Homo sapiens: one gene and its partners. The protein of the gene in region 1 purifies or fractionates together with the protein of each later gene. This does not show direct contact. Each region holds a gene or a part of one and is shown on either strand. Other genes may lie near its edges.

Region 1 (5,111 bases):
TCCTGGCTAACACGGTGAAATCCTGTCTCTACTAAAAATACAAAAAATTAGCCAGGAGTGGTGGTGGGCGCCTGTAGTCCCAGCTACTCGGCAGGCTGAGGCAGGAGAATGGCGTGAACCCGGGAGGCAGAGCTTGCAGTGAGCCGAGATCACGCCATTGCACTCCAGCCTGGGAAACAAAGCTAGACTCCATCTTAAAAAAAAAAAAAAAAAAAAAAACAGTAAACAAAATAGAAAAGGTCCCTGTATGAAAACATACCTTATATTGGCCGGGCGCAGTGGCTCACGCCTGTAATCCCAACACTTAGGGAGGCCAAGGCAGACGGATCATGAGGTCAGGAGATCAAGACCATCCTGGCTAACACGGTGAAACCCTGTCTCTACTAAAAATACAAAAAATTAGCCGGGCGTGGTGGCATGTGCCTGTAGTCCCAGCTACTTGGGAGGCTGAGGCAGGAGAATTGCTTGAACTGGGAAGCAGAGGTTGCAGTGAGCAGAGATCGCACCACTGCACTACTGTCTAGGCGACAGGGCGAGACACTGCCTCAAAAAAAAAAAAAAAAGAAAAGAAAAGAAAAGAAAGAAAATATACCTTATATTCTACAAAGAGAAAGATAAAAGATAAATAAGCTAAATAAGTAACTTCAGATAAAGTGCCATGAAGAAAATAAAGCCAGAGAAATAAGACATTAAGTGACTTGGAAGAGAAACAGTTTGGAAAAGAGTAGAAACTTTTCTTGGCCAGGCATAGTGGCTCACACCTATAATCCCAACACTTTGGGAGGCCGAGACGGGTAGATCACCTGAGGTCAGGAGTTCGAGACCAGCCTGACCAACATGGACAAACCCCGCCTCTACTAAAAATACAAAAATTAGCTGGGCGTGGTGGCGCATGCCAGTAATCCCAGCTAATCGGGAGGCTGAGGCAGGAGAATCGTTTGAACCCAGGAAACGGAGGTTGCGGTGAGCCGAGATCACGCCATTGCACTCCAGCCTGGGCAACAAGAGTGAAACTCCATCTCAAAAAATAAAAACAAATAAATAAATAAAGTTTTCTCTAAGGTGTTATTTGAGCAAAGATCTGAATTATGAGAATGAACCAAACATGCTAAGATCTGGGGCAAGAATACTCTAGGCAGAGGGCAGCAAGTATACAGACTCAAAACAAGCTTGACATGTTTCAGGAACAGAAGAAAAGCCAATGTGACCGAGTATTGATGATAAACGAGGAAGAAGGTAAGAAATGAGGGACTTTGTAAGGCTGGATGAGGTTCAGAATCTATTTACAATGCAATGGGGAAGTCAGTTCAGGATTGTGAGCAAGGAAGCGACATGAACAGACATTTTTAAAAATCTGGCCAGGGCTGAACACAGTGGCTCATGCCCATAATCCCAGCACTCTGGGAGGCCAAGGTAGGTGGATCTCTTGAGGTCAGGAGTTTGAGACCAGCCTGACCAACATGTTGAAACCCGGTCTCCACTAAAAATACAAAAATTAGGCCGGGCGCAGTGACTCACACCTGTAATCTCAACACTTTGGGAGGCCGAGGCAGGCAGATCACCTTAGGTCGTGAGTTCAAGGCCAGCCTGAGCGACGTGCTGAAATCCCATCTCTACTAAAAAAATACGAAGAAAATTAGCTGGGTGTGGTGGTGCATGCCTGTAGTCCCAGCTACTTGGGAGGCTGAGGAATGAGAATTGCTTGAACTCAGGAGGCCGAGGTTGCAGTGAGCCAGGATGGTGCCACTGCACTCCAGCCTGGGCAACAGAAAAAGCCTCCGTCTCAAAAAATAACAAAGAAAAAATCACTCTGGCTGCCCTGTGGTAAAAGAACATCAGAGCAGCATGAGTGGAAATGGAGGGGCAAAATCAAAGGCTACTGTAGTAGTTTAAACAAGAAATAATGGTGGTTCGGACTTCACAGGGAGCAATTGAGATAACAAGAAATGATCACATTCTTGATATATTTTGAAGATAAAACTGGCCAGAAGCAGTGGCTCATACCTGTAATCCTAGCACTTTGGAAAGCAGAGGCAGGCAGATTGTTTGAGGCCAGGAATTCAAGACTAGCCTGGGCAACATGACAAAACCCCATCTCTACAAAAAAATTAGGTGTGGTGAAGCAGGCCTGTAGTCCCAGCTACTCTGGAGGCTTTGGTGGAAGAATCACTTGAGCCCAGGAGATTGAGGCTGCAATGAGCTGTAATAACACCACCGCACTCCAGCCTGGGCTACAGGGCAAGACACTGTCTCCAAAAAAAAAAAAAAAATATATATATATATATGTGTGTATAAATAAAACGAACAGAATTGGATATAGGACTTTAAGGAAAAAGAAGAATCAAGGATGACTCCTTGGGTTTTGTGTAAATGCAACAGGGTAAATGGGAGTGTTATTAGTAGAAACGGGAAAGACTGGGGAAATCAGGTCTGAGGAGGAAACCAAGAGTTTCATTTTGGACTAATTAAGTTGAGAGACTATTAGCTTTCCAAATGGAAGTTTTGAACAGGCAGATTTTACAAGCATCCCTCAGAGATATTGCAAGTTCTGTTCCAGACCAACACAACAAAGCAAACACCACAATGAAGCAAGTCACACAAAATTTTTGGTTTCCCAGTGCATATAGAAGTTATGTTTACACTGTATTACAGTCTATTAAGTGTGCAATAGCATTATGTCTTTTTAAAAAATGGGTGCCTTGCCAGGCATGGTGGCTCGCACCTGTAATCCCAGCACTTTGGGAGGCCAAGGTGGGTGGATCACCTGAGGTCAGGAGTTCAAGACCAGCCTGACCAACATAGTGAAACCCCATCGCTACTAAAAATACAAAAATTAGCCGGGCATGGTGGCACATGCCTATAATCCCAGCTACTCGGAGGCTGAGGCAGGAGAATCGCTTGAAACCGGGAGGCAGAGGTTGTGGTGAGCCGAGATCACACCATTGCATTCCAGCCAGGGCAACAAGAGCGAAACTCCATCTCAAAAAAAAAAAAAAAAAAAAAAAAATTGGGTGCCTTAAAAAATACTTTATTGTAGGCCAGGAGTGGTGGCTCATGCCTGTAATCCCAACACTTTGGGAGGCCAAGGTGGAGGGATCATCTGAGATCAAGAGTTTGATACCACCCTGGTCAACATGATGAAATCTCGTCTCTACTAAAAAAATACAAAAATGGCCGGGCGTGGTAGCTCACACCTGTTATCCCAGCACTTTGAGGGGCCGAGGCGGGTGGATCACAAGGTCAGGAGTTCAAGACCAGCCTGGCCAATATGGTGAAACCCCATCTCTACTAAAAATACAAAAATTAGCTGGGTGTGGTGGCGGGTGCCTGTAGTCCCAGCTACTCGGGAGGCTGAGGCAGGACAATCACTTGAACCCAGGAGGCGGAAGTTGCAAGTGAGCCAAGATCACACCACTGCACTTCAGCCTGGGTGACAGAGCAAGACTCCATCCCCCACAAAAAATACTTTATTGTTAAAAAAACACTAACAAGCCATCATCGAAATCATGAGTAAGTCATAATCTTTTCTCTGGCTGGAGGGCCTTGCCTCAATAAGGATGCCTGCTGACTGATCAAGGTATTGGTTGCTGAAGGCTGGGGTAGCTGTGAAAATTTCCTAAAATAAGACAGTAATAAAGTTTGCCGTATCGACTGATTCTTCCTTTTATGAAAAATTTCTCTGGAGTACATGATATTGTTTGATAGCATTTTACACACAGCAGAACATCCTTCGATATTGGAGGCAATGCTCTCAAACCTTGCTACTGCTTTATCAACTAAGTTTATGGAATATTCAAAATCCTTTTTCAACAATGTTCACAGTAGATTCCATCTCAAGAAACCACTTTCTCTGGTCGTCCACCATAAGAAGCAACTCCTTATCTGATCAAGTTTTATCAAGAGACTGTAGCAACTCAGTTACACCTTCTGGCTCCACTTCTAATTCTAGTTTGCTACTACCACTGTATTTGCAGTTAATTCCTCCATTGAAATCTTGAACCTCTCTCCAAGTCATCCATTAAGGTTGGAATCAGCTTCTTCCAAACTCCTGTTAATGTTGATATTCTGACCTCCCATGAATTATAAATGTTCTTCACGACAGGCAGAATGGTGAATCATTTCCAGAAGGTTTTCTTTTTTCTTTTTTTTTTTTGAGACAGAGTCTTGCTCTGTCGCCCAGGCTGGAGTGCAGCGGCTAGATCTCAGCTCACTGCAAGCTCCGCCTCCCAGGTTCACGCCATTCTCCTGCCTCAGCCTCCCAAGTAGCTGAGACTACAGGCACCTGCCACCACACCTGGCTAATTCTTTGTATTTTTAGTAGAGATGGGGTTTCACCATGTTAGCCAGGATGGTCTTGATCTCCTGACCTTGTGATCCGCCCACCTTGGCCTCCCAAGATGCTAGGATTACAGGCGTGAGCCACCGCGCCCAGCCCATTTCCAGAAGGTTTTCAATCTACTTTGCCCAGATGCATCAGACGAATCACTATCTATGACATCCATAGCCTTATGAAATGCATTTCTTAAATAACACATTTAAGACTGTAAAGTCGAAATTACTCCTTGATCCATCACGGGCTACAGAACAGATCCTGTGTTAACAGGCATAAAAACAAGATTAATCGGCTGGGCATGGTGGCTCACGCCTGTAATCCCAGCACTTTGGGAGGCCAAGGCAGGCGGATCACCAGGTCAGGAGATCCAGACCACCCTGGCTAACACGGTGAAACCCCATCTCTACTAAAAATACAAAAAATTAGCCAGGTGTGGTGGCAGGCACCTGTAGTCCCAGCTACTTGGGAGGCTGAGGCAGGAGAATGGCATGAACCTGGGAGGCAGAGCTTGCAGTGAGCTGAGATCGAGTCACTACACTCCAGCCTGGGTGATAGAACAAGACTCCGTCTCAAAAAAAAACAAGATTAATCTTCTTATATATCTCCATCAGAGCTCTTGGGTGAATTCATGCATTGTCAATGAACAGTAATACTTTGAGTCTTTTTCTTTTGGGGCAGTAGGTCTCAAAAATGGGCTTAAAATACTCAGTAAACCATACTGTAAACAGATGTGCCGTTATCCAGGCTTTGTTGTTCCATTTATAGAGCTCATGCAAAG
Region 2 (3,500 bases), on another chromosome or scaffold:
TCCTGTGATTATACACATTGCTCCATAATTATGCAGACTATGTAAATATTTCACATCTGTCCTATTTGATTTAGTTCTTCCAACACTTACCCAAGTCAACTAAGGCAGGCCTTTTCACTTGATACTAAGCAGGCCCAGAATGATGAGGTGACTAACAGCAATTCTCAGCTTGTAACTCCCAACTCCTGACTCCCACTTCCGTGCCCTTTCTGGAATCCTATGTAACAATGCCTTTTTACACTTCTTAGCCCTCTGATTTTCTAGCTTTCTTAAGAGATATTCTGAAATTCACCAGAGAGATTGAGAAAGAGAGAGAGAGAGTGTGTGTGTGTGTGTGTATGAGAGAGAGAGTATGTGTGTGTGTGTGAGAGAGAGAGAGAGAGAGAGATGTTTGGTGGGAGTTGGATGAGGGAGCAGTAGCAGGTGGGGAAAGAGGTTCCCTCTCCCCTACAATGCTTCTCTCAGCAGGTTTCCCCCAAGAAAGAGCAGCTGAGTCCTTGCATCTTGTGGCAGCTGGTGTGCCCAGCACTGAGTCTGTAGGAGCTGAAGCCAGCCCGGACCCTTCTCATGGGCAGTGCCCACCTGTGCTGAAGTCCTGCAGCGGTGGCGGTGTGAGGTGAGTAATGGAGTCCAGGGCAGGGAGTTAGGGATCTCCAAATCCAGGCAAATGCTGCTTTTCCACCAGATCTCCCAATATCAAAGACTCTGCCTAGACCTCGTGAGCTAGGCCTCAGGGCATGACCCCTATGTTCTGGGGAATTTTGCCCAGTACAGCTGCCTTTAGTCTCTTGCCTCCCTCCCATCTCTAATATGGGAATGACAGCCTTGACCTACATTTTGGGGTGAGGAGGAGAAACAACATAACAATCGTTGCCAAGTCCGTTGCAGATGTCAAGCACCATCTAAGAGCTTCAGTATAACACAGACATGCTTCCCATCAAGCTGTCATTTTCTTTTCTCCTCCTTTCCTGGTGCCTGGGTGGCTTTTCAGCCACATGCTGCAAATTTGCCATTCAGTTCCTATGATTTCTACTGCCCCATAACCTTAATTTTACCTTCCTGTTTGAAGTGTACCCCCACCCCTTCCATCCCTGCTTCTGGGCCTGTCAGACTTAGCTTAAACCTTCCCAAACCTTCCCTCTGCTTTCCCACCCAACCAAGATGCACTTCCTCCACCAGGTCTCCAACAGCACTTGAGTCTGTAGCGTGCAGGGTAGCACTTGCTGCCCTACTGCCTTAAATAAGTCTTGCATGGTTTCTGGAGTATTCATCTTACCAGGAAAACTAGATTGTAAGCTCTTCAAGGGCAGGGACTAGATCTTACAGATCTCTAGTCTCCCTTAAAAGGGCTCAAAAGTTCCCCAGCAGCTTTGCAAGTTGGGCCTCTCTCTCTTCCTCTGCATTTCTTTCAGGTTTCATGGCCTGTCTCTCCGATCATCTATTTGTTTTTTTGTCTGCCTTTCAGGCAGGCATTATAACTTCTTCTGTCAGCTTCTCCATCTGGCCTCTGTTGCTATTCCCTGCAGTCCAGCTACCTGCTTGTAGCTTGCTGTCCCTCTGTCTGGTCTTCTGTCTATCAGTTGCTTAGGCATCTCTCCTATTACCCAAATCAAAAAACAACCAACAAAATTAAAAAAAAAAAACAGAAAAACTAAACAAAAAACAAGCAAGGAATAAGCAATGTAGTTCCCTTTCACACTGAGCATACAATGCGCCTACAGACAAGGTAAAACTGCAGCTCAGCAGCAGGTGTTTCTGTGATGCCTTCTTATGAAAGGGAAGCTCCAGAGTTTCAGCCATGGAATTGAAGGTATGAAATTACAGCCTTGTTGATACTGATGCATTCAACTTTCTAGCGATGTTCTGGTAGGGGATCCTCTTTAGGCCTTGACGGACAGAAGGTAACTAGGACTGACTAAAATGAGAAGCCCCTGAATCGCTCTTTGGTGTTCTGTGACAGATGCAATAATAACTTGTATTTATTGTCTACTGTTGCCAGCTCTGTGCTAGGCTCTTTACTGGCATGATACCATTTTCTCCTATGATAATCTTGCAAGGTAGGTATTTTTTTTTCTAATAGTTATTGCTGTTTCTGATTATACAAGTGATACTAGCTGAAGTTAGGTATTATCATCATTACTGTTTTACCAAGGAGGAGATAGAGGCTGAGAGAAGCTAAGTAACTTGCCTGTAACAGAAGACATGCTGTGGCTTTGGGAAGAAAGAGACTTCCTGGAGAGAGTTTCCCAGCATCCAAAGTTATTTTGGTATCTTTAGTTCATGCACATACACATACATACTCTCACAAGCACATTCTTGTACTCTTGTACATTCACACAGTCACATCATCCCCTGGGCTCACTCACTTTTCATACTGGAGTCATTCAAAATGATGATCACTCTTATGCCCTCACCCTCACACACAATCATATTTACATACATGCTACATTTAGGTACATTCACACTGCCACAAATTCACATTCACGTATTCACATTTTCATATTGATGCACACAACACACTTACCATACACCCCACCCTCATGTTCACAGACACTCACACCTTTGTGCTATTAATATCATATTCTCACACACACACACAATCATACACTTTCACACTTACATTCACACAGAGGATACAATCACCTTTGCCTGCCCAAATTCCTGTATAGTCATACATACTCTATACACAAATAATACATTGACATTCCCCCTGCACACACTCCAACTGTTTCTTATACTCACAGCCATTCATACACTCAATTTCATACACTCCAGTGTACTTGCATTGATGTCATCACTGTTTCTTCCTCACAGTCACAAACTTATCACAGGGACACAAACGTGCATACATGCTCATATATCCACGTTTATATTTTCTCACATCATAAGCACCATCTCACCCACTTGCACTTTTACACTTAGAATTACACACTTTTGCATTCACATACACAGAGCTAAAACAACCTCCCTACTCCTGATACATTCACACATAATCACATTCATACATAGAAACACACATTTTGCCACACATTCACACTCACACACTCACTTTCTTCACACTGAGACATCATCACACTCTATACCAAACTTGCAGGCACATACACTGAAATACAACCATACACACATATTTTTATAAACTCAGCCATTTTCACTGAAAACCGTCACTCTACCCTCTCAAACTCAAGCACAATCACTTACACACACAGGTATAGTCACATTGACTGACACATATATAGGCTTATTCACATTCAGTACTCATACAAATTCACATAAACATACATACTGCACATGTACTTAACACTCACATATTCACTCACTTTCACATTCACGACTGTACACTCAAAATTATACACGCCCTTATTCCCACAGACAAGCACTCCTCCACATTCGTGTACATGCACATGTGTACCCCCTCACACACCATCCCCCACTCGTACATCACACATTTTCACACTGGCCCAATCACACTTACCACACACTCACATTCTTATACATTCCCA
Region 3 (3,500 bases), on another chromosome or scaffold:
CAGGGTTGGCCGGGCGCCAGCCAGACGGAAGCCACAGACATGTGGGTCTGGCTCGCCGGGCCCCTGCCCCGCCTGCTGGCTGCCCCCCAGCCCCCCGGACTCCCTGTTTGTCCTCAGCCAGGCCAGGAAGGTGCCATCTGGCCTGCGAGCAGGGCTTTGTCCTCGGCTGAGGGGAGAAGGGGTTCAAGGGCCGTGTCTGGGCTGGGGACAGGCCCCTCCTTGTGGCGGGGCGGCTGGGGCCCTGTGCTTTGCCGTTTGACCCGGCCCACGGCGCGGGCAGCATGCGGAGGAGGGCGGCAGGCCTGGGCTGTTGGTAGTTTGACCCTGGGTGCTGTCCTCAGGTCGAGGTCTGTCCTCCAGCCCTCTTCTGACTCTGGCCACCCAAGGCTGGGTGATGATTGAAGCCCCTGGCTGTCGTCTCCCTCCTGCCCTGGAGGCCTCCCCACCAGCCTGGGAGGGGGAGTCCAGGTACCCCGGGTGCCTGAGCAGGCGAGGCCCCTGTTCTGGGCATCCAGAGACCCACTAGCTTTAGGCCTGGTGTTCATTGGGGTGCTACTTGGATGCTGGGGGGCCAGGGGCCACTCCGTCTTGTTAAGTCCATCCCAGACCCTAGGAACAGGGTGTGTCCTTCCTCGTGCTCCGTTCCTCAGATGTTTGGCCCTATGCCAGGCAGGGTAGGGGCGTGAGGCAGGATCTAGAAGCCCAGCCTGGAAATAGCCTCACGGGGCTGGGGTAGGCAGGCCAGCCTGGCAACACACCTGCCATGTCCGGGCCCCCACCCTGCTGGTGCGTCCCCCACATGCCCGTGCACAGCTGTGCCATCAACTCTGCTGCCCTGTGAGTCCCCCGCATGCCCGTTCATAGCCGTGCCATCAACTCTGCTGTCCTCTGAGCAGGTGCCGTGACGGGCACATGCCATTGATGTGTGCACGAGGCACGACAGGATGGCCAGGTCTCCCAAGGTCAGGTTGGCCCCTCGGCCACTCCCCCACTACCCCGGTTGCTGACACCGGCTGGAGACCCCAAGGCCAGGCGCTGGCTCCTCAATAGGAAGTTCCCGGCCCCACGCAGGGCGTCAGTGCCCATGTGTACCTCCCACCCTCGAGACCAGCACCCTGGAGAGGCAGGTCAGAAGTCGTGAACCCAGGAGGACCCTACAGAGAAGGGGGGCCGGGGCTCAGCCCGCGGGAAGGGAGCAGATGCTGCCTCTCATTGAAGATTCCAGGCGGCGGCGGCGGCGGCGGCTCCTCCAGTTAATCCTCGCTGACTGTCTCCTGGAGGGTGGAGAGAGGGGAGGCGCCGGCCCGGGCTGCCTGCACTGCCTCTGCGCGGGTGCCATGTGCTGCTGCCGGGTCACCGTCTGCCGCTATGAAGATGGATGGGCCCAGGAAGAGGGGCTGGCGGGTCAGGGACACAGGCACGGCCCCTGGGAGACAGATGCTTCTCCACGGTGGGGCAGGTCTCAGAGCCCCTGGGCCATCATTCCTGCTGATCTTGTGGGGAGACGGCCATGGCCTCCTTGTTTTTTGGGTGTTTGGCATTTCGTGGCTCAGGGAGGCAGAGCGGGGCTGGTGCTCTTCAGGAGCACTGCCCGCTGATCAGCAGTCGTTACCTGACATGGCCAGATGGAACGTGAGGAAGGGCCGGGTTCCCGTGGCTCTGCATCCCTGGGAAGCTCAGAGGGGCCAGCGTGGCCATGGCTCTCAGACACCCCCAGGTCAGGGTAGGCCTGGGCAGTGCTGTCCCCACATGGGGAAGATGCTGGGGCTGAGAACGGCTGCCCCAGTGACAGAGTGACGCCTGGGTTGGCAGCCATCCAGAGTCCAGAGCACAGCCCCCATCTGGGCCGCCCTGAGGCTCCCTCCGCCCCCCTCCTCCCCCCTCCTCCCCCCTCCCCCTCCTCCTCCTCCTCCCCCCTCCTCCTCCTCCTCCTCCTACCCCCTCCTCCTCCTCCTCCTCCTCCTACCCCCTCCTCCTCCTCCTACCCCCTCCTCCTCCTCCTCCCACTTAGTCACACGAATAACAGGAACAAGCAAGGCCTTTTCATGCTCTGGTTTCTCCGGGCTGGACCCTGCGTGTGTGCGGGGCAGCCTCTGCGTGGCTAGGGGTGGCACGGCCTATCCTTGAACTTGGCAGGGACCTCAGCCCGGAAGGTGGGCTTTGGGCCACTGCCTCCTCCTGCTTTGTGCCTGGAGAAGACCCCTCATCTGAGTCCTCTGGACCACCTTCCCAGCTACACCCAGGTCCACTGTGTCCAGGAGCCTGGGACAGGCGAGCTGTTGCCTTCCCTGCCCCACCGTGTGTGTGAAGGCCGGTACCCCAGCTGGCCAGTCAGGGCCCAGCTGCTGCCTGTTCTGGTGGGCTCCAGGGCCAGGGCCACCCCAGGAGGTGGTTGGGGGCAGACCAGCACCTTCGGCCCAGGGGCAGTGCCAGCTTCCTTTGCCCCTGCCCTCCACGTGGGCACCAGGGCCAGGACATCTGCGGCCAGGTGGGCAGCTGTCGGCGCAGTTGACGTCTTGGCTACATCGTGGCACTCGCTTCACGGCGTGCTGGGTGCCAACGGTGTCTGCTTCCCCGGGTGTGTGTCTGGTGTGACCTTCGGATGTCCACACCAGGAGGGGTGGAGGCAGGAGCCCCTGCCACCCTGCATCCTTCACCTGCACACATTGTGTTTCTGGGGGGTTCTAGTTCTTTTGCTGGACTGAGGAGGCCCAGGGAGGGAGACGGATCCCGAGACGCACTTCACCCCAGACCTGTCGCAGCCACATCCCCTTTCTTACGGTTCTGCTTCCCACACCACATGCACCATGTTTTGCGTAGAAAGCCTTAGGGAAAGGATGTTTCTAGAACATGAACTAAATCTAGCGCCTTCCCGTGAGTCAGGAGACCTGGCTGTGTCCTGTGGTCAGTGGCCTATACCAGGCTCCTGCCCTGACTGGACGCTCTCCTCCCGCAGGATGCCGGCTCCAGGAGCAGCAGTGGAGGTCGGGAACGCCTCATTGTGGAGCCCCCGCTCCCTCAGGAGAAGGCAGGGGGACCAGCCATCCCCTCGCACCTGCTCAGCACCCCCTACCCCTTCGGCCTCTCCCCCAGCTCAGTTGTGCAGGATTCCCGCTTCCCGCCACTCAAGTAAGTTGGTCGGCGGGGACTTCGGTGAGGTGGCCAGGTGGGGACACAGTGCTCAGGGTCTGGGTCCCCAGGCAGCCTGCGGTCTGCACAGATGAGGCTGTGCCTGCTAGATGGTTGTCGGCCGCTGAGCCCTGGGGATTGCAGCCCTGTCTGTGCCCCTTCACACTGAGGTGGCAGTGGCAGCTCGCTCCCCCCGCTGCTTAAGCCCCGTCCTCGTTCGGGGTGCCAGGAGTCTGGGTGCCGACTGAGCGCCAGGGGTGATGCAGGGAGTTTAGCCGTCCCCCCATGCAGGAGCAGGTGTGCACTCACCTGTCCCCACCTTGCCCACTATCCCCGCCTGCAGCCTCCAGCGGCCCGTGCACCACGTGGTG
Region 4 (3,500 bases), on another chromosome or scaffold:
TTCCTCACGGCTCTGCAGGCTGGAAGTCCAGGCGCAAGGCGCCGGCAGATCTGGTGTCTGGTGAGGTCCAGCACCTTCTCGCTGTGTCCTCACAGGGCAGAAGGGGTGAGGGAGTGCTCTCTGGGGCAGTAATCCCAGTCCTGAGGGCTCCACCTTCATGGCCTAGTCACCCCCAAGGAGGCCCCACCTCCTAACACCATCACCTTGGGTATTAGGATTTCACACAGGAATTTTGGAGGGGACACAGATTCATTCTGTAGTGTTGTGAATTATGTGTGTATTGAAAATGTTGGTATGTGGTATTTTACGTTAGAAAAGTGTCTGTTTCTTAAAAGAGGCCGAGTTGATTAAAAAAGATACTCAGATCTGCCTGTAGTGGTCCTGTACTGACCTCACTGTCCCCCGGCACTCTGTCCCGTCCCCAGCGTGCTCCGTGCATCCTACACGCATCCTGGTGAGAGGTGTCCTCAGCCCTTTGCATGGACGCTGGTGGGCTGTGTGGGGGAAGGTTGCCCAGCTCTGCTCATGGGGCCTGCAGGCTGCTCGGGGGCACCAGACTCTAGTGTCCCAAGTCCTCAGAGTGTCCCCTGGGGGTTTGTTTTATTTGGACATTTTGATGGGTTTAAAAAGTGTCAAGCTTTGATTTGTGCCTTTCTGAGTAGCGAGTTTGGTAATGCTTATTTGCTGCTCAGCCTCCCCTTCTGGCATTGCACATTCATATCCTGTGCCTGTTATTTTTTTATTCTTATTTTTTTGAGATAGAGTCTTGTTGTGTTGCCCAGGCTGTAGTACAGGGGTGTGATCTCAGATCCTGGCAACCTCCTCCTGAGAGCAGCCCCCGGGCAGAACTCCACCCCCATGACCCAATCAGATCTCACAGGAGAGCACTCACTATCCTGAGAGCAGCCCCTGGGGGAACTCCACCACCACAACCCAATCAGATCTCACAGGAGAGCACTCACTATCCTGAGAGCAGCCCCCCGGGGGAACTCCACCCCCACGACCCAATCAGATCTCACAGGAGAGCACTCACTATCCTGAGAGCAGCCCCGGGAGGAACTCCACACCCATGGCCCAGTCAGATCTCACTATCCTGAGAGCAGCCACGCCATGGGGAACTCCGCCCCATAATCCGGTCACCTCCCACCAGGCCCCTCCTCCAACATTGAGGGTCACAAGTGAACATGAGATTTGCATGGGGACGCAGATCCAAACCGTATGTGCTGTTATGAATAAAGATCCAAACCGTGTCCGCTGTTATGAATAAAGATCCAAACCGTATCCGCTGTTATGAATAAAGGTGCCGAGAACATTTTTTTTCAAGTCTTTTTGTGGACGTGTGTTTTTCTTTGTCTTGGGTAAAAAATACCAAGGAGTAGGATTGCTGATTTACAGGTTGGATTTAGGTTGAACTTCACATGAAACAACCAAACCTCCTTCCACGGTAGCTGCACCATTTTACATTTCCACCAGCTGCAGTGGAGAGTTCCTGGCTCTCCACTTCCTCACCAGCATTTCTTGTGGTCTCTCATTTTGATTACATCCATTCTTGTGAGTGTGCAGTGGTGTCGATCTCATTGTGATTTCATTGGAATTTCCCTGATGATGATGTTCAGCAATTTTTTTTTTTTTTTTTTTTTGAGAGGGAGTCTTGCCCAGGCTGGAGTGCAGTGGCTCCATCTTGGCTCACGGCAAGCTCCACCTCCCAGGTTCAAACAATTCTCCTGCCTCAGCCTCCCAACTAGCTGGGATTAAAGGCATGCACCACCATGCCCAGCTAATTTTGTATTTTTTAGTAGAAATGGGGTGTCACTATGTTGGTCAGGCTGGTCTCAAACTCCTGACCTCAGGTCACCCGCCGGCCTTGGCCTCCCAAAGTGCTGGGATTACAGGCATGAGCCACGGCGCCTGGCCTTTTTGTCCATTTTTTATTGGGCAGGGAGTTTCTGCTTACTCTGGATACAGGTCTTATGTTTATATATTTATATAATTTATGTGAGAAAGAGAAGGCAAGCCTTAGCTGTGGTCACTCTGCTGTCCCAGGCCAGGCTGCCTCAGGGAACCTGGGCCTTGAGATTTGACCTGGCTTGAGCATTTGATGTCTCTGTGCCTCCACTCCCCACCCCTCCACTCCCTGCCCTTGAGATGAGGTCTTGCTTTGTTGCCCAGGCTGGAGTGCAGTGGCATGATCACAGCTCACCACAGTCTTGAACTCCCGGACTCAAGCGATCCTCCCACCTCAGCCTCCCAGGTAGCTGGGACCACAGGCACGCACCACCACGCCTGGCTAATTTTTAATTTATTTCTGGTAGAGATGGAGTCTTGTTATGTTGCCTGTAGGCTGTTCTCAGAACTCCTGGGCTCAAGTGATTCTCCCACCTCGGCCTCCCAAAGTGCTGGGATTGCAGGTGTCAGCCACTGTGCCTGGCCTGTGCCTGTTCCTTAATTGGCAGAGTGTGTGCTGTAAAATGTATATAACAGGGTCTTGGAGGTACCCGACATGCCATTCTTTAATGTCTTATACGTTACTATTATTTTTAAATAAACTGTATTATTTTGAGTTCATTGTAGGTTCCCACGCGGCTGTGAGAAAAGATGGAGATCTTTTCTATTTTAGACCCTTGCCTGGTTTCCCCAGTGGTGACGGTCGGGATGCTAACCCTGGTGCAGGTGAGGCTGTGGAAGTCTCCATCCCCGTAGGGAGCCCTCATGCCACCTCTCAGCCACGCCATTTCCTTACCCTCTGGAAACCTCTAGTCTTTGCTCTGTCTGTGATTTTGTCATTCGAAGGATGCAGTGTAAGGGGAAGTGCAGAATTCTTCAGGTAATTGTGTGTCAGTAGCTTGTTTCCCGTGGTGAGACTCCTCTGCGTGAGTGTGCACGGCTTGCCCAGCCAGCCACCCGTGGAAGGACATCTGGGCTGTTTCCTGTTTTGGCTACTACAGATAAAGCTGCTGTGACACTTGCGTATAGGTTTTTGTGTGAATATACGTTTTCATTTCTGGGATAAATGTTTAAGAGTGCAGTTGCTGGTTCATGTGTGGTAATTATGTGTTTAGTTTGTTAGAAAACTGCCAGATTGTTTTCTTGAGTGGCCATACATTCCCACCAGCAATGTAGGAGCGTATCAGCCTGGTTAGGCTGCCATAACAAAATACTCCAGACTGAGTGGGGAGCAGTAGAAATTCACTCTCGCAGTTCTGGAGGCTTGAAGGCCAAGAGCAAGATGCTGTCAGTGCTGATTCCAGGAGAGGCCTCTTTTGCTGGTTTGCAGATGCTGCCTTTTTTTTTTTTTTTTTTTTGAGATGGAGTCTCGCTCTGTCACCCAGACTGGAGTGCAGTGGCGCAATCTCAGCTCACTGCAACCTCTGCCTCCTGGGTTCAAGCAGTTCTCTTGCCTCAGTTTCCTGAGTAGCTGGGACTACAGGCGCCCACCACCATGCGCCGCTGATTTTTGTATTTTTAGTAGAGACGGGGTTTCACCATGTTTCCCAGGTTGG

The links. The genes of interacting proteins can lie anywhere in the genome.
Region 2: the proteins of EEF1AKMT2 (region 1) and PAK3 purify together in Homo sapiens (affinity purification with mass spectrometry; one large-scale study listed by BioGRID and IntAct). This does not show direct contact.
Region 3: the proteins of EEF1AKMT2 (region 1) and GSE1 purify together in Homo sapiens (affinity purification with mass spectrometry; one large-scale study listed by BioGRID and IntAct). This does not show direct contact.
Region 4: the proteins of EEF1AKMT2 (region 1) and GAK purify together in Homo sapiens (affinity purification with mass spectrometry; one large-scale study listed by BioGRID and IntAct). This does not show direct contact.

The regions. Positions count from the first base shown.
Region 1 is NC_000010.11:124,766,965-124,772,075, forward strand, and holds part of EEF1AKMT2 (EEF1A lysine methyltransferase 2), read right to left. Parts: intron 1-5,111.
Region 2 is NC_000023.11:111,102,691-111,106,190, forward strand, and holds part of PAK3 (serine/threonine-protein kinase PAK 3), read left to right. Parts: intron 1-465; exon of another isoform or gene 466-468; 5' UTR 469-616; intron 617-3,500. UniProt on the Homo sapiens protein: Serine/threonine protein kinase that plays a role in a variety of different signaling pathways including cytoskeleton regulation, cell migration, or cell cycle regulation.
Region 3 is NC_000016.10:85,651,322-85,654,821, forward strand, and holds part of GSE1 (genetic suppressor element 1), read left to right. Parts: intron 1-2,956; coding exon 2,957-3,129; intron 3,130-3,472; coding exon 3,473-3,500.
Region 4 is NC_000004.12:922,317-925,816, reverse strand, and holds part of GAK (cyclin-G-associated kinase), read left to right. Parts: intron 1-3,500. UniProt on the Homo sapiens protein: Associates with cyclin G and CDK5. Seems to act as an auxilin homolog that is involved in the uncoating of clathrin-coated vesicles by Hsc70 in non-neuronal cells. Expression oscillates slightly during the cell cycle, peaking at G1.